2 separate regions of the Homo sapiens genome follow, and region 2 is linked to region 1. Evidence: fine-mapped expression QTL. A gene starts in region 1. The other region holds a variant in brackets. All regions are shown on one strand. Distances are between the middles of the regions. Region 1 holds the start of PRC1 (protein regulator of cytokinesis 1). Region 2 holds the start of PRC1-AS1 (PRC1 antisense RNA 1).

What was found.
Region 2: its variant is fine-mapped to the expression of PRC1 in thyroid (GTEx, PIP 0.96).

The regions. Positions count from the first base shown.
Region 1 is chr15:90,985,757-90,998,991 of GRCh38, forward strand. It overlaps PRC1 (protein regulator of cytokinesis 1), which reads right to left and starts at 8,779. Exons shown (of 15, transcript NM_003981.4): 1 at 8,651-8,779. The coding sequence starts at 8,661. LOC124903556 (a long non-coding RNA gene) reads left to right here and starts at 9,023. Exons shown (of 2, transcript XR_007064759.1): 1 at 9,023-9,179; 2 at 11,587-11,869. VPS33B (VPS33B late endosome and lysosome associated) reads right to left here. Exons shown (of 23, transcript NM_018668.5): 23 at 12,917-13,235. The coding sequence ends at 13,219. PRC1-AS1 (PRC1 antisense RNA 1) reads left to right here. Exons shown (of 4, transcript NR_051984.1): 4 at 1,874-2,868. RefSeq lists enhancers at 8,085-8,952, 8,953-9,819 and a silencer at 8,316-8,535.
Region 2 is chr15:90,957,541-90,974,403 of GRCh38, forward strand. RCCD1 (RCC1 domain containing 1) reads left to right here. Exons shown (of 8, transcript NM_001017919.2): 4 at 64-185; 5 at 2,360-2,458; 6 at 2,788-2,958; 7 at 3,485-3,514; 8 at 4,078-5,585. The coding sequence ends at 4,229. It overlaps PRC1 (protein regulator of cytokinesis 1), which reads right to left. Exons shown (of 15, transcript NM_003981.4): 11 at 16,596-16,706; 12 at 12,864-12,974; 13 at 11,907-12,083; 14 at 11,539-11,580; 15 at 8,500-9,662. The coding sequence ends at 9,591. PRC1-AS1 (PRC1 antisense RNA 1) reads left to right here and starts at 8,829. Exons shown (of 4, transcript NR_051984.1): 1 at 8,829-9,138. The variant C/A (reference allele first, on the strand shown) is at 8,445.

The sequences.
Region 1 (13,235 bases):
ACCCACCTCGGCCTCCCAAAGTGCTGGGATTACAGGCATGAGCCACTGCGCCCGGGCCTAGTATTCTTAAATTGCAACCGGCAGCTCAAAGAATGGCTAAAGTTAAAAAGCCATTGAGATGGGGTTTCACTACGTTGGCCACGCTGGTCTCGAACTCCTGACCTCAAGTGATCCACCTGCCTCGGCCTCCCAAATTGCTGGGATTACAGGCGTGAGCTACCATGCCTGGCCTATTCTTCTTAAATTACAACTAGCAGCTCAAAGAATGGCTAAAGTTAAAAAGACAGCATTAAGTGTTGGTGAGTATATAGAAAAGTGAGAACTTTCATATGCTGCTGGCATGGTGTAAATTGGTACAACTATTTTAAAAACTGTTGGCAGTCTATCTACTAAAGCTGAACCCAGCAGTTCTACCTCTACATACATACCTAGCAGAAATGAACACATACGTTCACCAAAGACATATATGAGAATGGTTAGAGAAGCACTACTCATAATAGCAGGGAAACAGAAACAGCCTAGATGTCTATCAACAGAATGAATAGTACATTCCTACAATGCACTAATGCAGCAATGAAAATGAACAAACTGGCTGGGTGCAGTGGCTCACACCTGTAATTCCAGGACTCTGGGAGGCCGAGGGGAGCAGATCACTTGAGGTCAGGAGACCAGCCTGGCCAACATGGGGAAACCCTGTCTCTACTAAAAACACAAAAAATTAGCTGGGTGTGGTGGTGCGCCTGTAATCCCAGCTACTGGGGCGGCTGAGGCAGGAGAATCGCTTGAACCCGGGAGGCAGGGTTTGCAGTGAGCCAAGGTTGCAGTGAGCCAAGATTGTACCACTGTACTCCAGCTTGGGCGACAGAGCGAAACTGTCAAAAAAGAAAATGAACACACTACACATGATATGGATAAAGCTCAAATTATTATATTTCTATTTTATTTATTTATTTATTTTACTTTTTTGGGGTGATGAAATAGTTCTAGATCTTGATGGCGATTATACAACAGTATACAATTGAAACTACCTGTAAAGCGAGTCTGTTTTACTGTGTATGAATTATACCTCAAATCTTTTCATTTTTTTAATGAAGTAAAATAAACAACTAAAAAATAGTTGTAAGGGGAAGAGGAAGGAAAAAAAAAACACTTTAGGCTGAGCAAATGCCACTAGATATGCAAATGTGTATCACTATGTGATTCCGTTGACAGAGAGTTCAAAAACAGGCAAAACTGGCCAGGCACGGTAGTTCACGCCTGTATTCCTAGCACCTTGCAAGGCCGAGGCAGGAAAACTGTTTGAGCCCAGGAGTTTCAGATCATTCTGGGCAACATAGTGAGACTCTGCGTCTTAAAAAAAAAAAAAAAAAAAAAATTAGCCGGGCACGGTGACGTATGCCTATAGTCCCAGCTACTCAGGAGGCTGAGGTGGGAGGATTGCTTGAGCCTGAGAGGATGAGGCTGCAGTGAGCTATGATCACTGCACTCCAAAGCAACACCCTATCTCAAAAACGAAAACAAAAAAAGCAAAAACAAAACCAGGCCAAACTAATCAATGCTTTCAGAAGTCAGGATAGTAGTTCTTTTGGCTCAGGGGAGGCAGTGACTGGTAGAGGGCTTCTGGGTTGCTGCTTACACAGGTGCATCAACTGTGAACAATTCACTGAGTTTACACTTGATTTCTGTACGTTTCTGAATGTATGTTATTCTTCAATTACCAAAAGCTTATTTTAACAAAAAATTATTTATCTAAAATACAAATTTAACTGGCTTCTGTATCTTATCTTTTAAGAACAGCTTACTTTAAAAATTATCACAATTAGTCTGCTTTACAGAACATTTAAAGAATAGAAATTTTTCTCCCTTTTCTTAGGTATAACAGGACAACTAAGACTGCCCTGGCACCAGAGAAACTACAATCTAGATGTGCTCTGCTTCCAGTCGGCCGAGAAGCCTGCAGCAAATCACCTAAACACTTAAGGTCTTTGTGTGCCATCCACACCCAACTGCAACTAGAGACTTTCATTAGCCCCTTTCTGTCTCAGAGCTTTCGGTGGTTCTACAAGTCACCAGCCTGGATCTCTAACAATGTGTCTCTCCAAAGCTGTTAATACATTCACATCCAAAATATCTCCAGCCACGAAATCCTAGTTTAGAGGTTGCCCGTCCTTGTTGAAGAAACATTTCTACACAAATACCTGTTGCCTATACCAGATGGCCATACCAATACCCAAATACTGACAAACGTTTAAAAGAATTTACGGTACTCCCTTCACTTTAGAAATGTTAACAGTTCAAGTCCAACAGAACTTAAAGGAAAAAAAGAGAAATGTTAACAGTAAGTAAGGCATTTATTTAACATAATCTCAACTAAAGTCCAACTAAAGAGCTTCCCCAGGCAAACACTCCTTTTGCACTTCATTTTGAAGACAAAAGAATGCACAAGTTAAAATCCTAATATTACCATTTTATTAAAAATAACTTTTAAGATCCAATCTGTGGCCAATATTCGATCTGGATGCAAAACCCTGGCTTCCAGACAGGCCAGCCAGGGGCACTGCTCTGAAGGTCATTACTTAAGTATCCCAGTCTCCTCAGTCTGACAGACCTACCCCTGCCCAGCCAATCTCCACATAACAGCTAGTTGTTCATAATAAATCCCATCAGATCCCCGCTTAACTACTCCCCTTCAAAGGCTCCACTGCCCTCAGGAAATAGTTCAACCACCTTCTGTAGAAAGGCCTTCTAAAACCTCTCTCCGAGTCTGTCTGCTAATCTCTCCCACTTGACACTCCCCAGGTCTCTGGCCAGCTGAACTTCCCGGGCATTTCCTGAACAATGCCCCTCAATAAACCACATGCAACTCTCATTTTCTGATGCCACCGCGCTTTGTACATTCAGTTCCGTCTATATGCCACCACCTCCTCTGGAGAGCTGTGGACTTGTCACTCACCATTCCCCCCAAGCCCCCTAGTAGACCATAAACTCAAGGGCAAGGACCACCACATCTTATTCATCTTCATTTTACCACACCCTAACTCACAGTAGTTGTTCAATAGATATAAAATGAATGGCCCTGAATTCCTCCCAAAGGGTCCTATGCTCCTAACCTACCTAACCTAATAGAGGTATTATGCACTCTGGATCCTGACGAAGGTTTACAAGCAGGGCTGCCTATCTCTGTAACACATCTAGAAGGTAAAGTGATCGTTTTTCTGAGTAAAAAAATCTAGCACAATGGGCAAAGAATCTGAATAGACATTTCTCCAAAGAAGATATAAAAATGGCCAATAAGCACATGAAAAGATGCTCAATATTAGTCATTAGGGAAATGCAAATCAAAACCACTTCATAGCCAACAGGATGGTATAATAAAAAAAAATATATAGCAAAAAGTATTGGTGAGAATCTAGAGGAACTAGAACCCTCAGACACTGCTTGTGGGCATGCAAGACGGTACAGCCTCTTTGGAAAATAGTCTGGTAGTTCCTCAATTGATTTTTTGTTTTTTGAGACAGGGCCTCACTGTCACCTGGGCTGGAGTGCAGTGGTGTGATCATAGCTCAACGCAGCCTCAACGCCCTGGGCTCAAGCAATTCTCCTACCTTAGTCTCCCAAGTAGCTGGGACCATAGACGTGCCATCGTGCTTGGCTAATTTTTTTTTTTTTTTTTTTTTTTAAGGTTTGCCATGTTGCTCAGGCTGGTCTTGAACTCCTGGGCCCAAGCAATCCTCCCACCTCGGCCTCCCAAAGTGTTGGGATAACAGACATGAGCCACTGCACCCGGCCCCTCAGTTTAACAGAGTTCATACAACTCAGCAATTTTATTACTGGGTATTTGCCCAAAAGAAATGAAAACACATTTATACAAAAACTACACAACTGTTTATAGCAGCATTACTTATAATAGCCAAAAAGTGAAAAAAAAAATACAAATGGCCATCAACTTATGAATGGGTAAATAAAATGTAGTATATAGGCATACAATGGAATATTATTTGGCAATAAACCTTGAAAACATTATGTTAAGTCAAAGAAGCAAGTCACAAAAGACCAGAGCTACGGTTCCGTTTTTATGAAATATCCAGAATAGGTAAAAAGTAGATTTGGGGTTTGTATGGTTTTTTGAGACAGGGTCTCCCTCTTTCACCTAGGCTGGAGTGCAGTAACATGATCATGGCTCACTGCAGCCCCAACTTCCTAGGCTCAGGTGATCCTCCCACCTGAGCCTCCGGAGTAGCTGGGACTACAGATGTGAGCCACCACACCCAGCTAACTTAAACAATAAAATTTTTTTTTAGGCCGGGTGCGGTGGATCACTCCTGTAATCCCAGCACTTTGGGTGCCAAGACCGGCGGATCACGAGGTCAGGAGTTTGAGACCAGCCTGGCCAATATGGTGAAACCCCGTCTCTACTAAAAATACAAAAATTAGCTGGGTGTGGTGGTGGGCACCTGTAATCTCAGCTACTCGGGAGGCTGAGGCAGGAGAATTGCTTGAATCCGGGAGGTGGAGGTTGCAGTGACCTGAGATCACGTCACTGCACTCCAGCCTGGGTGACAGAGTGAGACTCCATCTCAAAAAATAAAATAAAATAAAATAAAAAATAAAATAAATAAATAAATAAATAAATAATTTTTTTTTTTTTTTTAAGAGGTAGAGTCTCTCTATGTTGCCCAAGCTGTTCTTGAACTCCTGGGCTCAAGTAGTCCTCCCACCTTGGGCTCCCAAAGTGCTGGAATTATAGGTGTGCGCCACCTTGCCTAGCCGAAAAGTAGATTTGTAGTTGCGGCTGGGGAGAATTTGGACCATGGGGTGAAAGGGGATTGACTGCTAATGGGATTTTAAAGGGGTGATAAAAATGTTCTAAAATTGATTGCAGTGATGATTGCACAACTCTGAATATTCTAAAAATCACTGAATTATAATATACAATTTAAGTACATTGTATGGTATGTGGATTATACCTCAAAGCTGTTATTAAAAACATCTTGGCACATAATCTAAAACATTTTTGGTTTCTTTTTTTTTTCTTTTTTTGAGACAGAGTCTCAGTCTGGCACCCAGGCCGGAGTGCAATGGTGTGATCTCAGCTCACTGCAACCTCTGCCTTCTGGGATCAAGCGATTCTCCTGCCTCAGCCTCCTGAGTAGCTGGGACTACAGGCACACGGCACCACGCCCGGCTAATTTTTGTATTTTTAGTAGAGACGGGGTTTCACCATGTTGGTCAGGCTGGTCTCAAACTCCTGACCTCGTGATCCGACCGCCTCGGCCTCCCAAAGTGCTGGGATTACAGGCGTGAGCCACTGTGCCCGGCCCATAATCTGAAATGTTTTTGATTTGTGACTTAATTGAAAAACTTACAGATTTTTACTATGGCCGGGCGCGGTGGCTCGTGTGCAATCCCAGCACTTTGGGAGGCCAAGGCGGGCGGATCACCTGAGATCAGGAGCTCGAGACCAGCCTGGCCAACATGGTGAAACCCCATCTCTACTAGAAATACAAAAATTAGCTGGGCGTGGTAGTGGGTGCCTGTAATCCCAGATACTCAGGAGGCTGAGGCAGGAGAATCACTTGAACCCGGTGAACCCAGGAGGCGGAGGTTGCAGTGAGCTGAGATCATGCCATTGCACTCCAGCCTGGGCAACAGAGCAAGACTGTCTCCAAAAAAAAAAAGAAATAAAAATTTTACTAATATATAACGTATTTTATTTGGCCTGTTGGAAATGGGTGTTTGGAATTACCAAACACCCATTATTATTATTCTAGTTAGAGACACTTCCTGTAAGAGGATCATTTTCAAATTAAAAACTAACATTTCTCACTCTTCCTAACATTCAAATTGTACTGAACTTAATTTTTTTTTTAAACTTAAATCTTGTATCATCCTTGACACTTCTTTCTTATATGCCCGCCATTAGCATTATCTACACAAGACAGGCAGAATCTCACTCCTCCTGACCTCTGCTGCTACCACTACCACCCCCACCCTGGTCCAGGTCACCACCACCAACTTCTTGCTGTATGGCAGGGGCCTCTTAACTGGTCTCCCGGCTTCGAAGCTGGCCTCCTTAAGTCCATTGTCAACACAGGAGCCCCAAGTCCTAATCTTCTACTCAGAACCCTCCAACGACTTGCCATCTCACTCTAAGGAAAAGCCTCTGACTTTCCAAAGACCTATGGAGCCCCATTCCATCTGAAAGCCATTTCTTTTGACCTCAGTGCTCATTCTATTCCTGTCACAGCGACCTCCTTGCTCTTTCTGGAACATACCAGGCGCTATCTCCCCTTAGGGCACTTGGATTTGCTGATTCCTCTACCTAGATCTCTTTTCCCCCATGCTGCATGGCTTCACCCTTTTCCTTCTTAGGTCTTTGCTCAGAGATCACCTTCTCAGGGAGGCCTTTCCTGACCCATCTCTTTAAAACCACAACCCCCCTTCCTACACCTTCAGTACTTCTTAACCTCTTGATTTCTCTACATAGCACTTACCACCATTTAAGACTAACTTATTTATTACACTCCTCTTTTGCTATTAGAATATAAACTCTGTGAGGGCAGGGATGTCACTTTTGCTCACTGCTATATCCCCAACACTTGCAATGGTTCCTTGTATATAACAAACATTCAAGAAGTATTTTTCTTTTCTTTTTTAGTATAAATTATTATTTTTTAAATAGAGACAGGGTCTTGCTATGTTGCCCAGGCTGGTCTTGAACTCCTGGGCTCAAGTCATCCTCCCACCTTGGCCTCCCAAAGTGCTGGGATTACAGGTGTGAGCCACTGTGCCAGGCCCAAGAAGTCTTTTTGAATGAATAACGTGACATTTCAAAAAAGTTGTATGATCTTAAGATGCTTCAGAGCAATCATTATGAACAATTATCATGATACACTTAAATACTCCCTGGCTAAATTGTTTCAGATAATCCCCTAAAAGCAGCAAGTCTGAGTTTTTTTTTTAGATTCACTGAAAAAAATCAAGAGTGCATACAAAGACTACCACTCAAGGACAAAAAGGTTGTAAAATGAGTCAGTTTTTCCAGTCTTGAACATAAATCACTGGACTGGAAGGTATCTCACAGTGGTCCTTAAATTATTTTCTACCTTCAGGCAGCCTTCACTGATCCACTGCCCTATTTTTTCTTAGCATTCCAGAGAAGGAGCTTTGTTGATCTCCAGTTCAACCTGTTTCGGGGATCGATAACCATAATTAATTCTGGCCAGAGTTTCGTTTGAGCCTCAGAGGTCAAAGCTGCAGTGAGCAATCTCGCCACTACACTCCAGCCTGGGCGACAGAGTGAGACCCCGTCTCAAAAAAAAAAAAAAAAAAAAAAAAAAAAAAGTTAATTATATCCATTAGCCTGGAACCAACATTAAAGGGTAAGTTTTCTCCTGCTTCATTCAATCCCTTGATAGAGGAGATGCCTACATAATTCATAAACTGTTAATGGACTTTTTTTTTTTTTTTTGAGACGTAGTCTCACTCTGTCGCCTAGGCTGGAGTGCAGTGTCGAGATGTCGGCTCATGCAACCTCTGCCTCCTAGGCTGAAGCGATTCTCCTGCCTCAGCCTCCTGAAAAGCTGGGGGTACAGGCGCGCCACCAGGGCCAGATAATTTTTGTATTTTTAGTTAAGACAAGGTTTTACCATGTTGGCACTCAATTCTCATTATTCTGAGGGCAAGCATTTTAAAAAGACTGATCAGAATTAGTGATCATGAAATGAAGAATCTTACAAAGCCTTAGAACAATCAGTTCCACCAAAAACTACACATTATTTAACGCTGTATCATCAGAAAACTGCATCCACAACTTTTAGAAAATAAAGTTAATATTTGGAAGTCACAAGGTTGGTAAGTGGCAGTGTCACCGTCTGGTCCCGATTTCAAGTCGGACAGTCCCTCCCCAACACCGCCTAGGAAGTTATTAAAACGACCGGAAAAGAATTCCATAATCCGTTTCTTAACTTGCAAAGAAACAAAGCTATCTTTCCAATTCAAACAAAACGTTAACACCGCTGGCCAGATATAAAGAAAAACAACGGGCCGGGCACGGTGGCTCACGCCTGTAATCCCAACACTTTGGGAGGCCGAGGTGGCAGGATTACTTGAAGCCAGGAGTTCGAGACCAGCCTGGCCAACATAGACCGCGTTTCCACAAAAATAAAAAAAAAGAATAAAACAAAGAAAAACAACGATAAATAAACTTAACAGCTTTAAAGAAAAGCCACGACCACAGAAGGTTTACAACGAGTCATCTGCGCCAAGCAGCGGCACCTGAGACGCTGCGGGCGGGGAGGGTGGGGTCCGAGCGCCAGCGCTGACCGCCTGGGTGGAGGCCGCCCCGGGCCCCGGGCCTCGACTACCCTGCCGCGTCCGGGCACCGGCGCTCGGCTCCCACCCGGGCGTCTGAGCCTGCGGGCACCTGCGGCCGCCGGCGGACAGCGCGTCAGGTCTCACCGCCGCGGCCCTCGCACTGGCTCGCCGCCTCCAGACCCTGCCCCTCAGCGCCCCCGGCCTCCCTCGGCGCCGACTGCCGTGACGATCTAGGCCCGGGACCCCGCACGGGTCCCGCACCCCTGAACAGGCCCCGCAGCCGAAACGAGCGTCGCTCCCTCCCGCGTCCCCTCGATTTCCCCGCAACCCGCACCTTCTCCTCATGGCGGACGCTCCAAGCAGCCGTGAGTCCAGGTCCAGACCTACTCCACACGGCCCCGAGAGCAACAACCACCCGCAAACACCGGCGATGTCACTCCGCGTAGCCGCTCCGCGAGCCGTTGAGCCCCGCAAAATTTCAAACCGCGCCACGGGGCGAAGCCTCGTCGCGATTGGCGTCGCGTCCCGTCGCTCCAAGAAAATCCCCGCCCCTCGGGCTGAAGTCGCGGGTGCGCAATCGGGGTGGGGACTCGCGAGCAGGGCCTGGGAAGCGCCGGAGTGGCGGCGGGGGATGACGTCACTGTCTGTGAGTGGCCGGGCGTGGCCTGCGCCTCCCGCTTCCCTGGCTTGGCGGCAGCCTCAAGGGACTCCTCTCCCAAGCCAGCTACCTCATCGGAGCGCCGCCCCGCCTCGCCCCGCGCAGTTTGGATTCGAAGTGCGCGGGCGGGGAGGGAGTTGAGAGCACCGCGGCTACCTGGCTTCCCTGAGTCCCGGCTGCCGGGAACGGGCGCGGGGGTGAATAGGTAAGTTAGCGCCTAGTTTCCCTCGCTCATCCAAGAAGCGAAGCTTGGAATCGATCTTTGGTGGGACTCTTCCCCAGATGTAAGAAGCCATACACTAAAGGGGAAGGGAAGGAACATTGAGTCCTGCTCATGGGCCTGGAACGTTTCAACGCCAGTTATCCCATTTAACCTCCACAATCGCCATTGCAGAGGAAACGCAAAAAGATTTGAATGATTTGCCTAAGTCACGTTATCAAATTAGATGAGTTTCTAAATCGTTACATGAAAAATTTAAAACTCAAAATAGACATTACTTTTGTAGCCTCCTTTCCTCGATGAACATGTTACATCCCTAAATGCTTATATATCACCGTTTTTTCCCAGTGATTCATGGTGGCATGGTGGCATGAATCCTGGTGTGTAGATATCTCGCCCATTCTGCTATTGATATTTAGATGATAATTTAAAAGATAAGGCTGGGCTGAATATCTTCATACATAAATCTTTGTGTATGTATGTATTTATAAATGCATCCTGCATTTTCGTACGGCTGATTCCTAGAGGTGTAATTACTGAATGCTCCCTTTATTAATTTGCCTTCTGCACAAAGCCTCACCGGAAAAGTACCCTCCTTTTGTTACCCTCAGCAGGGCTGAATTCTATTGTACTTCTAAACATCTTTGCTCATTTTGTAGGTAAAATAATAATACTGGCATTTCCTTGTTTGGCACTTGATTATAATTGAAATTGCACATTTTTCGTGTTTATTGGCCAACTGTAACTTAAGTGAATCCTCTTCATATGCCTTTTCCCTAAAGGTAAAGGATGCTTGTTTGCTTCACCTTCAGAACCATATTTTTCTTATTTTCAGAAAAACTTCATTAGTGCTTTCAATGTTCTTTTTACTTTTTTTAATTGAGACGGAGTCTCGCTCTGTCACCCAGGCTGTAGTGCAGTGGCCCAATCTCAGCTCACTGCAACCTCCGCTACCTGGGTTCAAGCAATTCTTGTGCCTCAGCTTCCCGAGTAGCTGGGACTACAGGCACGCACCACCATGCCTGGATACTTTTTTTTTTTGTATTTTTAATAGAGACGGGGTTTTGCCATGTTGGCCAGGCTGGTCTTGAACTCCTGACCTCAGGTGATCCGCCTGCCTCGGCCTCCCAAAGTGTTGGGATTACAGGCGTGAGCCAACGCGCCCGGCTTCCATGTTCTTTTTAACTTGTCAGCAGCATGCCAAACATTCACAGCACCAACACAGTGGGCGACAGGCACCACTTTTTCAATTTCCTTGCACTCTGTGATTAACATTGACACCACTAATAGAGTAGATGGTAGCACTACTTTTAAAATTTACTTGCATTCTTTGTTGATTAAATTAACAGGAGAGCTTTTCAGAAAGCTTCACAAATTTGTGATCTTCATACTTGTTCTTAGCACCAGCATTATGAAGTATCCAAAGAAAAGGCAATTTTTTCTCTCTTGTCCTTTACACTGAGGTGCTGAGGCTAACAAAGTCATAGAACTGATGCAAAGATATCCATTCAGAGCATAAACGCAGCATGTAAAACACTGTGTAATACGCGTTTATAATATATGACCTTAGCCTGGGCACTGTGGCAAAACCCTGTCTCTATAAAAAATACAAAAATTAGCCAGGTGTGGTGGTATGAGCCTGTAGTTCCAGCTACTTGGGAGGCTGAGGTGGGAGGATCACTTGAGCCCAGGAGGTCAAGGCTGCAGTGAGGCATGGTCACGCCACTGCACTCCAGCCTAGACGACAAAGCAAGACCCTTTCTCAAAAAAAAAAAAAAAAAAAAAAAAAAATCCTATTACAGGGTCATATATTTCTACTGGATGGAAGTGCAATGTTTTGCCACTGTTTAATCTTTTTCTGATGCCACCTATTCTTTCTGTGAATTAACAGCCCTGTTGGCAGTGTCTTTGGTCTTGCACACTAGCTTGACATAACACTCAAAATTCTAGCTAGATGCTTGAGGAATGCCTTTTCCTTGGAATATATTCTTATACAGAATTATCATTATTCTTATTTATTTATTTATTTTTTGAGACAGAGTCTTGCTCTGTTGCCCAGGCTGGAGTCCAGTGGCATGATCTCGGTTCACTGCAGCCTCTGCCTCCTGGGTTCAAGCGATTCTCCCACCTCAGCCTCATGAGTAGCTGGGACTACAGGTGCGCGCCTCCACAGCTGGCTAATTTTTATATTTTAGTAGAGACAGAGTTTCACCATGCTGGCCAAGCTGGTCTCAAACTCCTGACCTCAAGTGATTTGCCTGCCTCGGCCTCCCAAAGTGCTAGGATTACAGGTGTGAGCCACCGTGCGGGGCCCAGAATGATCATTATTCTATAGGAAGAATACTTTTGATGATCCAGTAACTCAGGTTTTGATTTTCTTTCTTCCTTTTAGTAAGTGGCAGCACTGTGGAATGGGGAACAGATGGAAGAATGAGCAGCTGGGAGGCACACTCTTGCAAAAACCCAGGCAAGAGACAATAAAGACCTCTGTCGTAGGGATGGTGAGGAGAAGATGAACTAGAGACATTTAGAAATAAGAACCAATAGCACAAGGGAACCAGCTGAAGGTGGGGCATAGAAAGAAAAAATCTGAGGTCAAGAATACAATTTTTTGCTCATTTGAACAAAGTTTGGGAATACAGGAAGAAGAGCAGATTAAAGGATTCAAGTAGGGACAGGAGCTTCCACTCATGAGTTTATTTTGTACATGCTGAGTTTGAAGTGCCTGTGGAATGACCAGGTAGGAAATACTTGTGTGGCGCTAAGGAGTGAGATGAAGGCTTGAGATCTGGAAGTGGATGACAACAAAGGACAGAGAGAGGGGAGATGTCAGCAAATGGGATGAGCAGAGAGGAGTAATCAAAGAACAACCTAAGAGACTGTGGGAGGACAAAGAAAGGGTATTATGGAAGCTGAATAAGACAATTTCAAGGAAAGCATAGTCATCAGTGAGATCAAGTTGGAAGAGGCCTGAAAAGAGGCCACTAATATAGGTGGTTGTAATTCCTTCTTTTTTTTTTTTTTTTTGAGACAAGGTCACAGCTTACTGCAGCCTCGACCTCCTGGGCTCAAAGGATCCTCCCACCTCAGCCTCCCCAGTAGCTAGGAATACAGGTGTGTGCCACCACCCTCGGCTAATTTTTTTATTTTTTGTAGAGACGGGGTCTTCCCATGTTATCCAGGCTGGTCTCAAACTCCGGGGTTCAAGCGTTCCTCTTGCCTCGGCCTCCAAAAGTGCAGTGATTACAGGCATGAGCCACAGCACCTGGCCTATATTTCATCATTTTTAAAAGGTAAAGAGAGAGAGAAAGGCTACTAGCATCAGTAATGAGGAGGGTGCTGGCACATTTATAGGAGCACTGTTTGCTGATGCCTGAAATGGCTCTAATGGCACACAATCTTTCATTCTGCAATAAGAAACAAACGCTTAAAATTGAAGTGCCTCCTTAAATTAAAACAACAAAGTCATTTTCTCAAAAATGTAATGAATCACAACATTTTAGAACTGGAAACGTGCTTGCTGGTCACCTCAGCCATCTCCCTCATTTTATGGTAGAGGAAACTCAGGTACAGAGTGGTAGAGTGATTTTTACAGGGAAGAACCAGACCAGGCCTGGAGCCACTACAAAGTCCAGGCCAAGAAGCACAGGAAGCCCCTGTAGCAAGCTCCAATGGGCTTTCACTAATAAAGATGGAAGTGCGTGTCCAGAACGACCAACGTATTACATCTGAGAGCAGAGGCTTTATTTACAATGACATTCAAACAGGATTTAGCAAAGGATGCCTCTTCCTGCTCGCATCTTAGCAGCATGGGTTGTACTTCATAAACAGAAAAGAGAAATATCCTGGGAGCAGGAAGTGAACTCTTTTCTCAGATAATGTTCTCTAAATCCCAACACGTTCCATGCTCCCGGCTCTTAGCAGGTAGTTGGTGGACACTTGGTTATAGCAGCTGGGTGCCAGATGCCTGCATCTCACTGAGGAATGTGTTCAGGGAAGATGTCAACACTGGCCGGGAAAAACATCAGGCTTTCACCTCAC
Region 2 (16,863 bases), 26 kb before region 1:
GAGAAGCAAGCGGAGCGGGACCCCTTAATGCGACTGTAGCTGACGACGGTCTCCCTTGCTCAGGCATGGACAGCTGGGCCATGGGACCCTGGAGGCAGAGCTGGAGCCACGGCTGTTGGAGGCGTTGCAGGGCCTAGTCATGGCTGAGGTGGCCGCGGGGGGCTGGCATTCTGTGTGTGTGAGTGGTGAGTGACTTAGTGCTTCTCCAGACGAGCTCATGATCTTGTGCAAACCTTCCTCCTCGTTTTCCAGTTTGGGTGGGGGCCTACCCAGGCCTCCTTCCAAATTCATCCATCCATCGCCCAGTCAGTTATGACTCCTAAATGCCTCTCACCCTCGGCCTCCTCTGCCTGCACCATGGCCCACTCACGCCTGGACTCTGGCATTTGTTCCTAGCTTCTCTGTTACTGGTCTCACTGCCCCTCCCCTCCTCTCCCCACCTGCTCCCAGCCAGGACTGTCTCTTAACAGTGCTGCCGAGGGAGTATGGAGTGTGAGGGGGCAGCTGAGCCAAGGAAAACGCAGAAACGCTGCAGTTGCCTAGGGGGCCATGATGTGTGGCACAGGGTGGACACTGGGGTGCCCACCAGGCACCAGGATGGTGATGAGTGTGTCCCTGTGGTGGTGCCACAGCTGGCCAGAGTGAGGAGTTTCACTTGGTGATCCAGGTGTAGCTCCTTCCTAGGCTGTTAGAGCCCATGCAGAGAGGGTGAGGCTGGGAACAGATGATCTTTGTCTGTGTCTGGGGCTCTCATTCTGGCTGCTACGTAGATCACCTGGAAGCTTAAAAAATTACCAATGCCAGGGGGCCGGGCGTAGTGGCTCATGCCTGTAATCCCAGCACTTTGGGAGGCCGAGGTGAGTGGATCACGAGGTCAGGAGTTCGAGATCAGCCTGACCAACATGGTGAAACCCCGTCTCTAAAAAAAAATACAAAAATTAGCTGGGTGCAGTGGTGTGCGCCTGTAGTCCTGGCTACTCGGGAGGCTGAGGCAGGAGAATCGTTTGAACCTGAGAAGCAGAGGTTGCAGTGAGCCGAGATCGTGCCACTGCACTCCAGCCTGGGCGACAGAGCGAGACTCAGTCTCAAAAAAAAAAAAAAAAAAAAAAGAAAAGCTACCAGTGCCTTCCTCCACACCATATTCTCATGGAATGGGCCTGGGCTGGTTGCCAAGCTCAGGAAACCCTGGGCTGAGCCTCGCCAACGTGGCAAAACCTCGTCTTTGTACAAAAAATATAAAAATGAGCTGGGCGTGGCGGCTCGTGCCTGTGGTCCCAGCTACTCGGGAGGCTGAGGCTGGAGGATCACTTGAGCCACGCGTGAGTGGAGGTTGCAGTGAGCCAAGATCACACCACTGCACTCCAGTCTGAGTGACAGAGTGAGACTCTGTCTGTCTAAAAAAAAAAAAAAAACAAAAAAAAAAAACCCCAACCTTGGGCTGGAGAGACCAGAGGGCTGGAAACAGCCCAGTGGGACGCCCTGCACTCAAGGTCCAGAAGGAGTTTGAGGCCTTAAGTTTAGTGTAGAGGCTGAAGCACGGACACATCCCACCAGACTTCCTAGTTTCAGATCATTGCTCGGGCCCTGGGACCTCGGGCCTGGTACTTAACCCCCTCTGTGCCTCAGTTGTGAATAAAATAGGGATCCTGCGTAAATGGTGATATTGTCATAAAACCACCTGTAGGGCTATTGTGAGAATTAAGTGATTATATTTGAAAAGCATGTGAAACATCAGCATGGATTAAGCACTTCATAAAGCAGCTATTGTTAGAAATTTTTAGAATTAGGCAGCTGTTCCAACCAAAAAGCTCCAGTGTTGTGGGAGGCCAGGAAGGGGAGAGCTGCACGTGGCTTTCATCAGGACCGGCTGTGGGTGCAGTTGAAAAAGGGGCACAGGCCGGCCCAGTGGTTGTTTTATTTACTTATTTAGAGACAGGGATTTTGCCATATTGCTGAGGCTAGTCTCGAACTTTTGAGCTCAAGTGATCTACCCATCTCAGCCTCCCAAAGTGCTGGGTTACAGGCATGAACCAATGCACCTGGCCCTGGCCCAGTGGTTTTGAAAGGGAGACCACTGCGGTACTTCTAGGGATACATTTCTGAAATGAGGGGCTATTTGGCAGCATAAGAATGGAAGTAGAAGGTCCAGTAAGGGACTTAAAGGGTGATCTGAAGGCATTGAGGGGATGTGAACCTAAGACAAGCCCCTGGGGCCCGAGGGGAAGCGCCTTGGCCTGGAGTGCTACCTTGGGCAGGGCAGGCTTTAGTTGTCCCCAGGAGCGGATGCGATGGGGAGGAGAGTTTGGATGGATGCAGGGGCTTCACAGTCTGTTTCATGTGTCCCCTTGATCTCTTTCAGAGACTGGGGATATTTATATCTGGGGCTGGAATGAATCAGGGCAGCTGGCCCTGCCCACCAGGAACCTGGCAGAGGATGGAGAGACTGTCGCAAGGGAAGGTGAGGGTCATCTCGGCTCCCACAGCCGTCTCCCCAGGATGTGGCTGTCATTCCTAACTCCTGGCTGTATGCTGGCCTCAGAGCTACACTGCTCAGATGGAGCATGTGAGCCCCTTATGGGAGGGAGCATTGGCAAGGCTGATGCCGGTCTTGGCACAACACACTTGTGCAGCAGTGCCAGCCCTGCCTGCAGAATGTAGGGGTTGGGAGCACCAGCTTTGGAGCTAGGCAGTCGTGTACCTCAGAGCTGTTGTGGCAATAAGTGACTGCATGAATAAGATTTAGCTCAGGGCTCAGTTGGTGTTCACATCATTATTATCATTCTGAAGCCACAGAACTGAATGAAGATGGTTCTCAGGTGAAGAGAACGGGTGGGGCTGAGGATGGAGCCCCTGCCCCCTTCATAGCTGTCCAGCCCTTCCCGGCATTACTGGATCTCCCCATGGGCTCAGATGCAGTCAAGGCCAGCTGTGGATCCCGGCACACAGCTGTGGTGACACGTGAGTGGGGCTGGGAGGCACTCTGCTCCACTCGAGCTGGTGCCTACGGAAGGGGGTGTGGTCGACGGAAAAACTTCTGTCTTAAGGCTTCTGTGGCTCATACAGAGCAGCTACCTTGCTCAGTGGATAAGCCCCAACCCCCTTGTTGTTTCACAGTAGTTCCCCAGCCTGTCAGGCCCAGAAGTTTCTTCCTTCTGGTGGGAGGCTGATGCTTTCTGTCCTCCCTGCACGGCCACAGACACATTCCCTGCCCGCCGCCGCCTCTGACAGCAGGGACTGTCCAGTCTGGCATGGAAGACTGCGGCGCTCGGTAGCATGGCACACAGGAAGATCCGCCACTTTTTCCCTCGGGATCCTCTGCCATGCCACGTGTGATCAGCCAGTTGTTAAGAGAATATGTTGTTCCATGCCAGGCAGATCTCATGAGGATTGTAATATGCTAGCTGTGGGCTGTGCCAAGCTGGGCTGGACAGATGCCTTGCCAAAGAACCGTAGTGACAACTATCGATTGTCCTTTTGCTTTCAGGAACAGGGGAGCTCTACACCTGGGGCTGGGGTAAGTAAAAGGATTGTTTTTGTGACCCTGAAACCAAGGAGAAGAAAGACCTGGGAGTACAGGGCAGGTGACAAAGCCAACAAGACTGGAGGAAGCAGGGGCCTCGGCCAGGTCACTGGGAGGAACAGGACTGCTCCCTCCCTGGGGTTGGAACAGACATAGGCGCGCTCAGTCCGAGGCCAGACAGGGGAGACATGGAGAGGATATCGGTACCACCCGCCTACCTCTCTGAAAGACTGTCTTAAGGGAGTATCCAACCAGCACTTACAAAGCAGCTTTTTGTGGATGTGACACTGGGTGGAGAAAAAGATTCGATGGAAGTGTGTGCTCTGAACATCTTAGCTTGGATAGCAGGGAAGTCTGGAGGAGCGTCTTGCCTGGAGTGGCTGGTCGCCACTAGCCTCTTGGGGATCCCCAAGGTTGCCTGGCTCTGGGTCTCTTGGATTCACAGAGCAGTGGGGCATAATCCCAGCACTTCATTTGATAGTCTGGGCCCCTTCCTGGAGGGAAAGCAGCAGCAAGACCCAGTGGAGACGATGGCAAAGGGGCTGATTTCACTTTAGGTAAATATGGACAGCTGGGCCACGAGGACACCACCAGCTTGGATCGGCCTCGCCGTGTGGAATACTTTGTAGATAAGCAACTCCAAGTAAAGGCTGTCACCTGTGGGCCGTGGAACACCTACGTGTATGCTGTGGAGAAAGGGAAGAGCTGACATGTGTACGTATATGTATATGCAACACCTGTGAGACCCCCATTCAGGTCAAGGAAAACCATTGCCTGCACCCCAAGGGCCCCATATTTGCCCCTCCCCATCACAGTCCTGCCCTTCACCCTCAAGCACGGTCCTAAACTTGTCTGCACTTTAGAAACACCTGGAGAGCATTGAAAACTCTGCTGCCTAAGGTCAGCATCAATCAAAACAATGAAATCAATGAAACAATGAAACCAGAGCTTCTAGGTGTGTGGCCTGGATAGTGGTAGATTCAAAGCTCCACCCACCTCATCCCAGGTACATTTGATGTGCAGCTGAGATTGGGGCACATTCCAGGTCATCGTCTTCTGTCAGTCATTTCCCTGCTTTCGTTTGAATTTTACCATTCTTGTATGCAGCCTTATACGACATAGTTGTGTTTGCTTTTGAGTGTTAGATAAATGGAATCCTGTGTATGTGCTTTTGTGTCGTTTTTGTCACTCAGCATTGTATAATCCATCCTTGTTGGGTCCTGGAGTTCATTTTTAATGCTATATGGTGTTCTGTTGTATGAATAATACCTCAAGTGATACAGCCTTGTTGATGGTCATTTTTATTGTTTCTGATTTTGGTCATTCCACATAATTCTTTGTGCAGTCTTCTGCACATGTGCACAAGTTCCTTTGCAGAACATTGAGTTGAATTGCTAAGTCAGGAGATACCTTTAATTTTACTAGATAACTGTTGCCCCCAGCAGGGTGGGGTCTACTGTGGCTAAAATGTCAGGTAGATGCACACTGGTTTTAATTGGCATTTCCCTGGATACTGATGAGGTTGAGTAGCTTTTCATTTGTTTTGGATGGCTGGGCATGGTGGCTCACACCTGTAGTCCCAGCACTTTGGGAGGCTAAGCAGGGAGATTGCTTGAGGCGAAGAGTTCATATGTTTATTGGCCACTTGGAGTTTTTCTGTTGTCAAGTGCCTGTTCAAGTTTTCTGGCCTTTTAAAATGTTCTGTATTTTCCTTAGTGATTTTTCTTTTGGATATTTCAGATACAAGTCTTTTGAGAGTTAGTATTCAGAGTATCTTCTGCTACAATGTAGTTTGTTTCAGTCTCTCTTGGTATTACCAATTTTAATACTTAGGTGATGCTTACTCCATGCCAGGTAAGGCTCAAAGTGCTTTACAAGTATCAACTTATTTTGATAAAATAAGCTTATCAGTAGTTTTCTTTATAGTTAAATTCTATTTGTGCATGTGTGTGTCTGTGGTTTAGCAAATGTTTCCCACCCATGGGGTCTTTTTTATTGTGGTAAAATATACTGAACATAAAATTTATGTTCAATAAAAAACAAAAATTGTTTTTAACCATTTTAAGTACATAGTTCAGTGACATTATATGCATTCACTGTTGTGCAACCGTCACCCCTATGCATTTCCAGAACTTTTTCATCATTCTATGCTGAAACTCTGTGCATTAAACACTTAACTCGTCAGTCTCCCCTTCCCCAGCCCCAGGCAACCACAGTCCTAACCTTCTGTTCCTATGATACTGTAAGTGCCTCATGTAAGTGAAATCCCATAGTATTTGTCTTTTTATGACTGGCTTATCTCACTTAGCAGCATGTCCTCCAAGTTCATCCATGATGTAGCTTATGTATCTAGACTTCCTGCCTTTTAAAGGCTAAGATTCTGTTGTATGTATACACTGCGTTTTATTCATCCGTGCATTGGTGGATATCTGAGTTGTTCACTACAGTCAATAATGTTGCTGGGAACATGGGTGTACAACTCTCTTGAGTCTCTGCTTTCAGTTCTTTTGGATATATACCCAGAGTGGAATTGCTGGATTGTGTGGTAATTCTAAATTTTTTTGAGGAACTGCCCTGTTTCCCACAGAGGCTGCATCATTTTACATCCCCACTGGAAGTGCACACAAATCCTAATTTCTCCACATCCGCGTCCACACTTGTTTTCTATTTCTGGTTAACAGCCATCCTAATGGGTGTGAAGTGGTATTTCATTGTGGGTTTTTTTTTTTTTTTTTGGACAGGGTCTCTCTGTTGTCCAGGCTGGAGTACAGCCTCCACCTTCTGGGCTTAAGCCATCCTCCCGGGTAGCTGGGGCTACAGGCACGTGCCACCACATCTGGCTAGTTTTTTGTATTTTTAGTAGAGATGGGGTTGTTGCATATTGCCCAGGCTGGTCTCAAACTGCTGGGCTGAAGCGATCCACTTGCCTTAGCCTCCCAAAGTACTAGGATTATAGGCATGAGCCATCATGCCTGGCCAAGCCATTTTTTAAAATGGACAAAAGTCAACAAAGACGACAGAAGGATAGCAAGTGAGCATATGAGAAGATGCTCTACATCATTAGTCATTAGGGAGTTGTAAATGAAAACCATAGTGAGACACCACTCCATACACAGAATAACTAGAATTACATAAAGGCTGAACATACCAACTGTTGGTGAAGATGTGGAGAAACTGGAACCTTCATACATTACTGGTAGGAATGTAAAATGGTACAACTGCTTTGGAAAACAGTTTGGCATTTCTTCTTTTTTAAGATGGAGTCTTGCTCTGTTGCCCAGGCTAGAGTGCAGTGGTGCAATCTCAGCTCACTGCCACTTCCGCCTCCTGAGTTCAAGGAATTCTCCTTCCTCAGCCTCCTGAATAGCTGAGATTACAGGTGTGTGCCACCACAGCCAGCTAATTTTTGTATTTTTAGTAGAGATGGGGTTTCACCATGTTGGCCAGGCTGGTCTCGAACTCCTGACCTCGTGATCTGCCCACCTTAGCCTCCCAAAGTGCTGGGATTACAGGCGTGAGCCACCATGCCCGGCCCAGTTTGGCATTTCTTAAAAAGTTAAGTGTACACATACCATAGATGTGATCCAGCCATTTCACTCCTAGGTATTTATCCAGAAAAAAAAATATATCCATACAAAGACTTGTACATGAATGTTTATAACAGCCTTGTTTTTAATAGCCAAAAACTGGAGAAAAGCCAAATGTGAAAAATAAACCTAACAGGCGAATAAACTGGTATATCAACACCATGGAATACTAAGCAAAAAAAAAAAAAAAAAAAAAAAAAAAAAAAAAAAAGAATTATGGATATAAGCAACAATATGGGTAAATCTGAAAGTAGTGAAAGAACCAGACCAAAAAAATATATACTGTATGATTCTACTTACATCGAACTGTAGAAAACGCAAACTAATCTGTAGTAACAAATCGGTGGGCCAGGTACAGTGGCTCATGCCTGTAGTCCTAGCACTTTGGGAGGCCGAGGTGGGCGGATCATGAGGTCAGGAGATCGAGACCATCCTAGCTAATACAGTGAAACCCTGTCTGTCTGTACCAAAAATACAAAAATTTACCAGGCGTGATGGCACGTGCCTGCAGTCCCAGCTACGCGGGAGGCTGAGGCAGGAGAATCCCTTGAACCTGGGAGGCAGAGATTGCAGTGAGCTGAGATTGTGCCACTGCACTCCAGCCTGGCAAGAGCGAGACTCCATCTCAAAAAAAAAAAAAAAAAAAAAAAAAAAAATCAGTGGTTGCTCGGCAGGGTGAGGCTGGGAAGGAGGAGTGAGAAAGGGGTGGGAAGAACTGCTGGGGTAGAGAGACTTGGTTAACTGGACTGTGGCGATGGTTTTTCTCTTACGCTTCACATGTGTGCAGTTTATGTCCATCCTCCTTCAGTAACGCTGTTGAAGTTGGGCAGCCTCCCCATATTGAGACAAACGGCATTGAAGCCAGAAGCATCCTAGGACTCCCTTTGCTCTCTACACATCAGGGGTTAGGTTTTATATTTCTCACCAAAAAATTAGAGTAAGAGATATTCTTAATTTAGAAATGTACCAGAGAATATTTTAAAAATCACACTCGGCCGGGTGCTGTGGCTCATGCCTGTCATCCCAGCACTTTGGGAGGCAGGCAGATCATCTGAGGTCAGGAGTTCAAGACCAGCCTGGCCAACATGGTGAAAGCCTGTCTCTACTAAAAATACAAAAATTAGCCAGGTGTGATGGTGCGTGCCTGTAATCCCAGCAAATCGGGAGGCTGAGGCAGGAGAATCGCTTGAACCTGGGAGGTGGAAGTTGCACTGAACCAAGATAGTGCCACTGTACTCCAGCCTGGGCGACAGAGTGAGACTCAAAAAAAAAAATCACACTCCTGACTAAAAATTTCCAGGAGGTCCTTTTAGTTTTTTGTGTTTGTTTTTCACACA[C/A]AGACCAACCAACTAAAAAGTGACTGGGGAAAAAAAGGAAACACCACACTATATCTTTTTGAAATGTAAGTATACAGATTTTAATTTATTTTTAAGAATAATTGTATATTTTAAAAACAGGACACGTACTGTATGAGTAAACAGCGTGGCTAACACCAAGTCCACACTGGTAAGCTTTTGAGAACCATTTACACTATGTTGACAGTAGTACTGCTGCAGGCAGACAGCGGAAGAATAAATAATAGTGCTTCAAGAAGAGTAGTGATTGAGAGGATAGGTAAAGAGGGCGCCTCATCGTGGAAGCTAGAGCAGGAACACCTCCCCAGTAGTGACATGTGCAAAGTTCCAGATCTCCACGACAAAGACAGCTCAACCCATTGGAACAAACAGACTCCCAATGTGGCTGGCAACTGCGGGGGTAGAAGAACTCAGGCAAAGTAGGCACAGGAATGGGGGAGATGAGAGCCAAGGGACAAACGCCGAGAAAGCGTTCCGACAAGCATGTGTGTTCATACATGCATACCCCCAACAAAGGGCAATGCACTGTGTAACAGAACTGAACACAATTTAACAAAGCTGCTCCCAGCCTTCCTGTCACCTCTTTGGCAGTAGGGCAGGCCATCTCAACTTCGGACACACAAAGACATTCTCTTCAGGAGGAAGGCTGTCCTGTGTGGTGGGGACAAGGCTTCAGGTAAGAGCAAAGCTATGATAGCTACAGCATTAATTGAACATGCCTAAACAAAAAAGATGTTAATTACTAGTTACAGGTATACATGCCAAAATTACCCCCAGGGATGGGCATAGTCAATCATTTTCCTACAGTGGTGAAATAAAACAAGCTTTGATCATGCTTCAGCAAGTAGAATTATGTGGTAGAGAAGTCAGGCCCCATATGCTAAAATTTGCACTTCTTGCCATAAACTTTTCATGTATATAAGTCAAAACCAAGTCTCCTAGGACCACTAAACCTATGATGGGCTTTCAACTGTAACACTCATTCACATCTTTAAGTTAGGCCCATGGTCATGGAACCTGGCCAAGGTTTCAAGCACGCCTAAGCTGAAGAAAAACTAAAGTCACCCCCATATAATTAGGTCCAGTCTAGGCACAGGAAGCCACAGCTGGTTGACTGATCAGGGCTTCTCAGGACTGGATGTTGGTTGAATTGAGGATTCCAGAAGTAGCATCAGATTTGGAAGCCTTTGAAAGTTCTCGCTGTTGAAAAATAAATAACATCAGTGGCCATACTGCCTCTCTTACACATGGCCCACCCTTCTAAGTTTGGTTAAGTGTCAGCAAAAGGTCCCTTGAAGGTAGTTTCTCTGAGATCCCTAGCCTGCAATAGGCTGCGTTAGGAGTAAAAGGTGAGGAACTCTGAGCACCATTCTATTAGTCACAGACAGAGTGCATGTGCACGCATGCCCGTGACCCCTTTTTCCTCAGCCAGTCCATTCTGTTACACCTCACAGAAGAGAAATCCTTCATACAGTCATGCACTGCATAATGATGTTTCAGTTAACGACAGGCCACATACACTATGGTGGTCCCATAAGATTATACCATATTTTTACTGTACCTTTTCTATGTTTAGATACACAAATACTTACCATTGCGTTACAATTGCCTACAGTATCCCAGGAATAGCCTGAATCAAAAAAACCCACAATTGCCTACAGTATTCTTTCTGTAACATGCTGCCCAGGTTTGTAGCCTAGGAGGAAAACGCCATACCATATAGTTTAGGTGTGTAGGCTGTTCTGTCTAGGACTGTTAAGTACACTCTGATATGTGCACAATGAAATTGCCCCACATTCTCAGAACATATCCCTGTCATTAAGCGAGGCATGACTCTACTTCACAGAGCTACTTTAGAGTTGTCAAGGTAAGTAGGCAACAAGCTTTGGTCTCTTGAGCCCTTTATAAAACAATGGGCCAGAACATATATCTACCAATCCCTGGGGCTGAGGCCTTGTAACCTGCTGGTGATTTGATCTCATGCTGGAGCACATGGTAGAGCAGCAAAAGATAAAGCATGAATGGCTATTGAGAAAGACAGATATTAGCAGAGGTTAGTTTACCGGCTTTGGTGCTGCCTGGTGGAGTCTATCAGCCATAGCAACCCAAACCAGACGAACCTACCTAGGACTAGCCACACAGATAGGCAGGTACATTTAAGCCTCAGATAAAATGGGCCTTGGTTGAACAAGCGAAAAAGAGAAAGCTGGACCTCTGTCCAGCAATCAGCCAGAGTGACACACACCCACTTTTAAAGGTAGAAGCACCACCAGCCACGTAATTTGAAAAACATGCTGGAGTAGGAAGCCAGTTTCAGTGATCAAAACTAGCTGCAGCCTTGGCCAACTGTTCCATTCTCTATCCCTGCAGCAATTAAGAGGGGAGGCAGGCTAGGGGTTTAACTCAATATCCCCTCAAGGGTGAGGAACATCCTCTCCTCTTGCTAGTAAAATATTGAGAGAAGAAATCACAGATTAAGTAAAAGGCAGTGTAGTTAGGTGTTAGCAAATATAGAGTAGGATACTAGGAAGTGAAGAGCATTCTGGAAAAACTTGCTTCCAGTGCTTCATCTATGCTTCAGTAGCTCAATGTATGGAAAGAGGCAAAGGTGAGGAAATCAGCATTAGCTAGCTGAGAATAGAGCTGGCGGTTAAGCCCTGAGGGGTTAGGAAGGCATATACTCCAGGAAATAATCAGCACACAGGCCAAGAGCCTCATTGTAGGCAGCACACAGCTGGGGCTCCCTTCCCCATGTGATTGGGGGCCTCTATTCTTTCCAGCTATTGCAGGCCTTTGATGTCACAATTGGGGAGGGTCAAGGTTTTCTGTTAAACGTGATTTAAAACTGTGCCTGACTTTAGGGGCTGAGAATCCAATTCAAGTCTGAACAAATTTTATTAATTAATCTGTTGTGAATGTAAATCAGATGTGTTTTTTTGAGTCCATGATAGGAATTCCTGCTTCCTTTGTAACACTGCTGAGATTATTAGTTAGTGTAGCCCTGTGCCCAGATGAATGAAGCCAGCAGATGACAGATCAGTTTGGAAAAGGGACATGCAGGGATTGCCATACAGACCTGAAGCCCAACAGTGGAACTGTCAGAGAGGGACGGATCCTTCTAAGAACAAAGAATTAAGACAATTACCAAGAACTCCACCAAGAGAGCACCAGGACAGTGATAGAGGGGTTGCCTCCTGCAGCCAGGGAATGGTATGTATTAAGCAGAAGGATCCAGGTTAAATGTCTAGTTGCTGCTGCCAACTTCCTTCCTACACAACCCCCCCTTAAATCACACCCACCCTGCCATGGTCAAAGCAGGAAAGGGATTCTCAGCCTCCAAGGTAGCTGCCCTAGCTAATAGCCTGGGTGCCCCTGGGAAGATACCCACTCTGCCCCAACTGTGTGCTCCCCAGAGACTGGTAGATATTAGAAAAGGTGAATTACCGCAAACTCAGAATAGGTGCTGGCAACAGAATTAATGCTGAAGTTGCGCTGGAGGGGGGCCGAGCCAGGGTACCCACCACTCAGGATGCTGCCGTTGAGCTCCAGGTTCTCCTTGTTGGCTCCATGCCTGCCAGTACGGGGTGTTTTCTTCCCTGAACAGGTGGAAGCAGCGACTGGCTGCAGAGAAAGGAAAGAGATCCATGTATCATCCTTCTAATGAACGTGCACACGCACACACAATACCTGCACTGGTCAAAGGCTGAGACTATCTTTATATTCATGTCTATAATCCTATACTTTTTAGTTAAAAAAAAAACATATATATATATATATATATATATATATATATATATATGGGGCTGGGTGTGGCTCATGCCTATAATCCCAACACTTTGGGAGGCCAAGGCAGGAGGATTGCTTGAGGCGACATGTTCGAGACCAGCCTGGGCAACATAGCAAAACACTGTCTCTAGAAAAAAATTTTTTTTAAATATGAATTCTTGATTTACAGAACACCTATCTTGAGCATAGTCTAATAAAATATTTGAAAGACTGAATGTGTTTTGCCACATACTTTCCACATCTCTACTGAGTACCTGGCATGTCTAGTGATCTGGTTTCACTGGGCTAGAACCCACATGTAGGGGACCTATCTCCATACCAGCTGAGGACTGGGCTTGGAATTGAGTCTACAGCGACCCTGCCTGATCTTCAGTTTCCCAGACACATCCCAGTGCTTCCCATGGTACCAGTGGGGCTCAGAGTGACTGTTCTCTTTTTTTGCACGTTAGTTTTGGACCATTATTTAATGGTGAGCTAGCTTATATCTGTCAACTCTCAGCATCTCAATAAGAACCAAATCCAGGGATCTTAGAATCTAGAACAAGTAGGTGGGGCCTCTGGGTGAACAGGCTAGGGACGCATGTGAGGATGTGCTTAGACACAGGGCATACTAACCTTGCTGCCAGAAGGAGGAAGTCGAGACACGGGGGAGTGGTAGACTGTCCCTCCAAAGATAGGCCGAATGCTACTATTGGCCGTAGCATTGGACATGGTGGTAGTGTTCAGCTAGGGAGAAGAGCACGTGGGTAACTGATGTGCAGTAACATCCTCAGCATTTCTAGCAACCTGTCTACCCTACAGAGAAATGACTATGGGAGGAGGCAGTCTAGGGAAGACGGGTTTACATGGTGAAGGGCCTGCTGTGTCTAATACTGCATAGATTTGAAGTAACTTGTGAAAAATTTTCAAAGCCTATTGCTATCCAGCAAATGGAAGTGTACAATGGTACAACCACTGTGGCACAAGACATCTAGCATATGACCCAGCCATTCCACTCTTAGATGTTTCTACCCAAACGAAATGAAAGCATAGATCCATACAAAGACTTAGACGTAAATGTTCACAACAGCTCCCTGCAGCAGCCAAAAGCTGGCAACAGCCAAATACCCATCAGCAGGTAAGTGGACAAGCAAACTGTGGTAAATTCATACAGTGGAATGAATATTGATCTACAATAAAAAGGAGTGACCTTTTGATACATACAGCAACAGAGATGAATCTACACTAAATGAAAGAAGCCAGACAAAAAAGAATATGTACTGCGGGATTCTATGTAAAATGTTTCAAAATGAAAACTAATCTATAGTTAGTTAAAGACTAAATCCCTACTCGCCACAGCTAGAGGCTGGGGGCAAACTAGGAGCCAGGGAAGGAGGGAGGTAATACAAAGAGGCACTAGGAAACTTTGGGGACCATGAAATGTTCATTATCTAAATTATGGTGACAGTTTCATTGTATAAACCTACATATGTCAAAACTTATTATATGCTAATGATAAGAGCTGTAAATGTTTTTGAGATGGGGTCTCACTCTGTCACCCAGGCTGGAGTACAGTGGTACAATCTTGGTTCACTGCAGCCTCGACCTCCTGGGCTCAAGCAATCCTCCCACCCCAGCCTCCTGAGTAGCTGGGACCACAGGCGTGTGCCACCACAACCAGCTAATTTTTGTATTTGTAGTAGAGATGGGGCTTCAACATGTTTCCTAGTCTCCCAACTCCTGAGTTCAAGCAATCCCCCTACCTTGGCTTCCCGAAGTAGTGGGATTACAGGCTTGAGCCACTGTACCCAGCCAACACTTTTTTTTTTTTTTTTTAATTAAAAAAATTCTAGGGGGCCGGGCACGGTGGCTCATCTGAGGTCGGGAGTATGAGACCAGCCTGACCAACATGGAGAAACCCCGTCTCTACTAAAAATACAAAATTAGGTGTGGTAGCACATGCCTGTAATCCCAGCTACTCGGGAGGTGGAGGTTCACGCCTGTAATCCCAGCACTTTGGGAGGCTGGGGCGGGCAGATCTTCTGAGGTCAAGAGATTGAGACCATCCTGGCCAACAAAGTGAAACCCCATCTCTACTAAAAATACAAAAATTAGGTGGGCATAGTGGCGCGGGCCTGTAGTCCCAGCTACTCAGGAGGCTGAGGCACGAGAATCACTTGAACCCAGGAGGTGTAGGTTGCAGTGAGCTGAGATTGCGCCACTGCACTCCAGCCTGGGCAACAGAGCGAGACTCCGTCTCAAAAAAACAAAACCAAAAAAAACACATTTTAGGCCAGGCACAGTGGCTCATGCCTGTAATCCCAGCACTTTGGGAGGCTGAGGCAGGAGGATCACTTGAGCTCAGGAGTTTGAGACCAGCCTGGACAACTTAGTGAGACCTCATCTCTACTGAAACTCAAAAAAAAAAAAAAAAAAACACCACCAACAAAAAAAAAAACCCCAAAATTAGCCGGGTATGGTGGCATGTGCCCGTAAGTCTCAGCTACATGGGAGGCTGAGGTTAGAGAATCACTTGAGCCCAGGAGGCTGAGCTGCAGTGAGCCATGATGGCGCCACTGCACTCCGGTGTGGGTGATAGAGCAAGACACTGTCTAAAAATAATAAATTTAATGTTATAAAATAGCAGTAGAGAGAAGAAATAATACTCTTTTATTTATCAAAAAGAAAAAAGTAGGCCAGGCACAGTGGCTCACGCCTGTAATCCCAGCACTTTGGAAGTCAAGGTGGGTGGATCACCTGAGGTCAGGAATTCAAGACCCTAGCCAACATGGAGAAACCCTGTCTCTACTAAAAATACAATATTAGCCGGGTGTGGTGGCACATGCCTGTAATCCCAGCTACTTGGGAGGCTGAGGCAGGAGAATTGCTTGAAACCAGGAGGCAGAGGCTGTAGTGAGCTGAGATCACCCATTGCACTCCAGCCTAGGCAACAAGAGCGAAACTCCATCTCAAAAAAAAAAAAAGTCCTCTCTGACTGTGCTGTAGAGATGAAGAATTATTACATCTTCCATTTAGTAAGCGTGAACGTTGTTTTTCACATGGTACCACAAGGCCATCTCTTGGTCTTACAGGGAAAATGGCATTACAGGTTTTCAGGAAAACTGCTGAAGCTTTCTTTTCATCGTTACCAGAATGTTGGCAATCATTCCCCCACCGCACCCCGAATTTAATGCAAGGACGCAACAAGCACAGACACCAAAGCTGGCCACTCCGTGACTGTCACTATAGGCCGCTACTCAGCCTTCCATCCACTCAAGTGGACTCGACATGCAGGGACAGAAAAACCCTTTCCCATCTCTGCAGGACAGAGGGCAAGAGGTAGGGAAAAGAAAGATCAGAGTGTTACTGTGTCTATGTAGAAAAGGAAGACATAAACTCCATTTTGATCTGTACTAAGAAAAATTGTTTTGCCTTGAGATGCTGTTAATCTGCAACTTTAGCCCCAACCCTGTGCTCACAGAAACATGTGCTGTATGGAATCAAGGTTCAAGGGATCTAGGGCTGTGCAGCATGTGCCTTGTTAACAATATGTTTACAGGCAGTATGCTCGGTAAAAGTCATCTGCATTCTCCATTCTCGATTAACCAGGGGCACGATGCACTGCGGAAAGCCGCAGGGACCTCTGCCCAAGAAAGCCTGGGTATTGTCCAGGTATTTCCCCGCACTGAGACAGCCTGAGATATGGCCTCGTGGGAAGGGAAAGACCTGACCATCCCCCAGCCCGACACCCGTCGTCTGTGCTCAGGAGGATTCGTAAAAGAGGAAGGCCTCCGTCTCCTGCATGCCCCTGGGAACGGAATATCTCGGTGTAAAACCCGATCGTACGTACCTATGTTCGTTCTATTCTTAGATAGGAGAAAACTGCCCTGTGGCTGGAGGCGAGATACGCTGGCGGCAATGCTGCTCTGTTACTCTTTACTACACTGAGATGTTTGGGTGGGGAGAAGCATAAATCTGGCCTACGTGCACATCTAGGCACAGTACCTTCCCTTGAACTTATTTGTGACACAGATTCCTTTGCTCACGTTTTCCTGCTGACCTTCTCCCCACTATCACCCTGTCCTCCTGCCGCATTCCCCTTGCCAAGATAGTGAAAATAGTAATCAATAAATACTGAGGGAACTCAAGAGACCGGTGCTGGTGCAGGTCCTCTGTATGCTGAGTGCTGGTCCCCTGGGCCCACTGTTCTTTCTCTATACTTTGTGTCTTATTTCTTTTCTCTGTCTCTTGTCCCACCTGATGAGAAATACCCACAGGTGTGGAGGGGCTGGCCCCCTTCAAAGAGGTGGCTGGGACTACCCTCACCCACTCCCTTGAAATCAGTGTTTCCCTAAGCCTTGTGTTTACCTTACGTGCTTTGCCCGGTGTATTGGGAGCCAGTCCTCGCCGCTTGCTAGGTGTTCGAGGAGCGCTGCCATACAGCATCTCTGTCTCTGTCTGTTTTTTGTTCTTCAGTTGCTGTGTGAAAGTCAGAAGCAACAGTGATAAATCTCAGGAAGAGAGCGGGTCTGGGATGGCAACAGCAGCAGGGCCGGGAATCTAGGCCCGTGTCTCTACAGCCAGAGCTAAAGAGCTGCCGCGGGCTCCCCGTTCCACAAGCCCCGGTCCCCGGCTC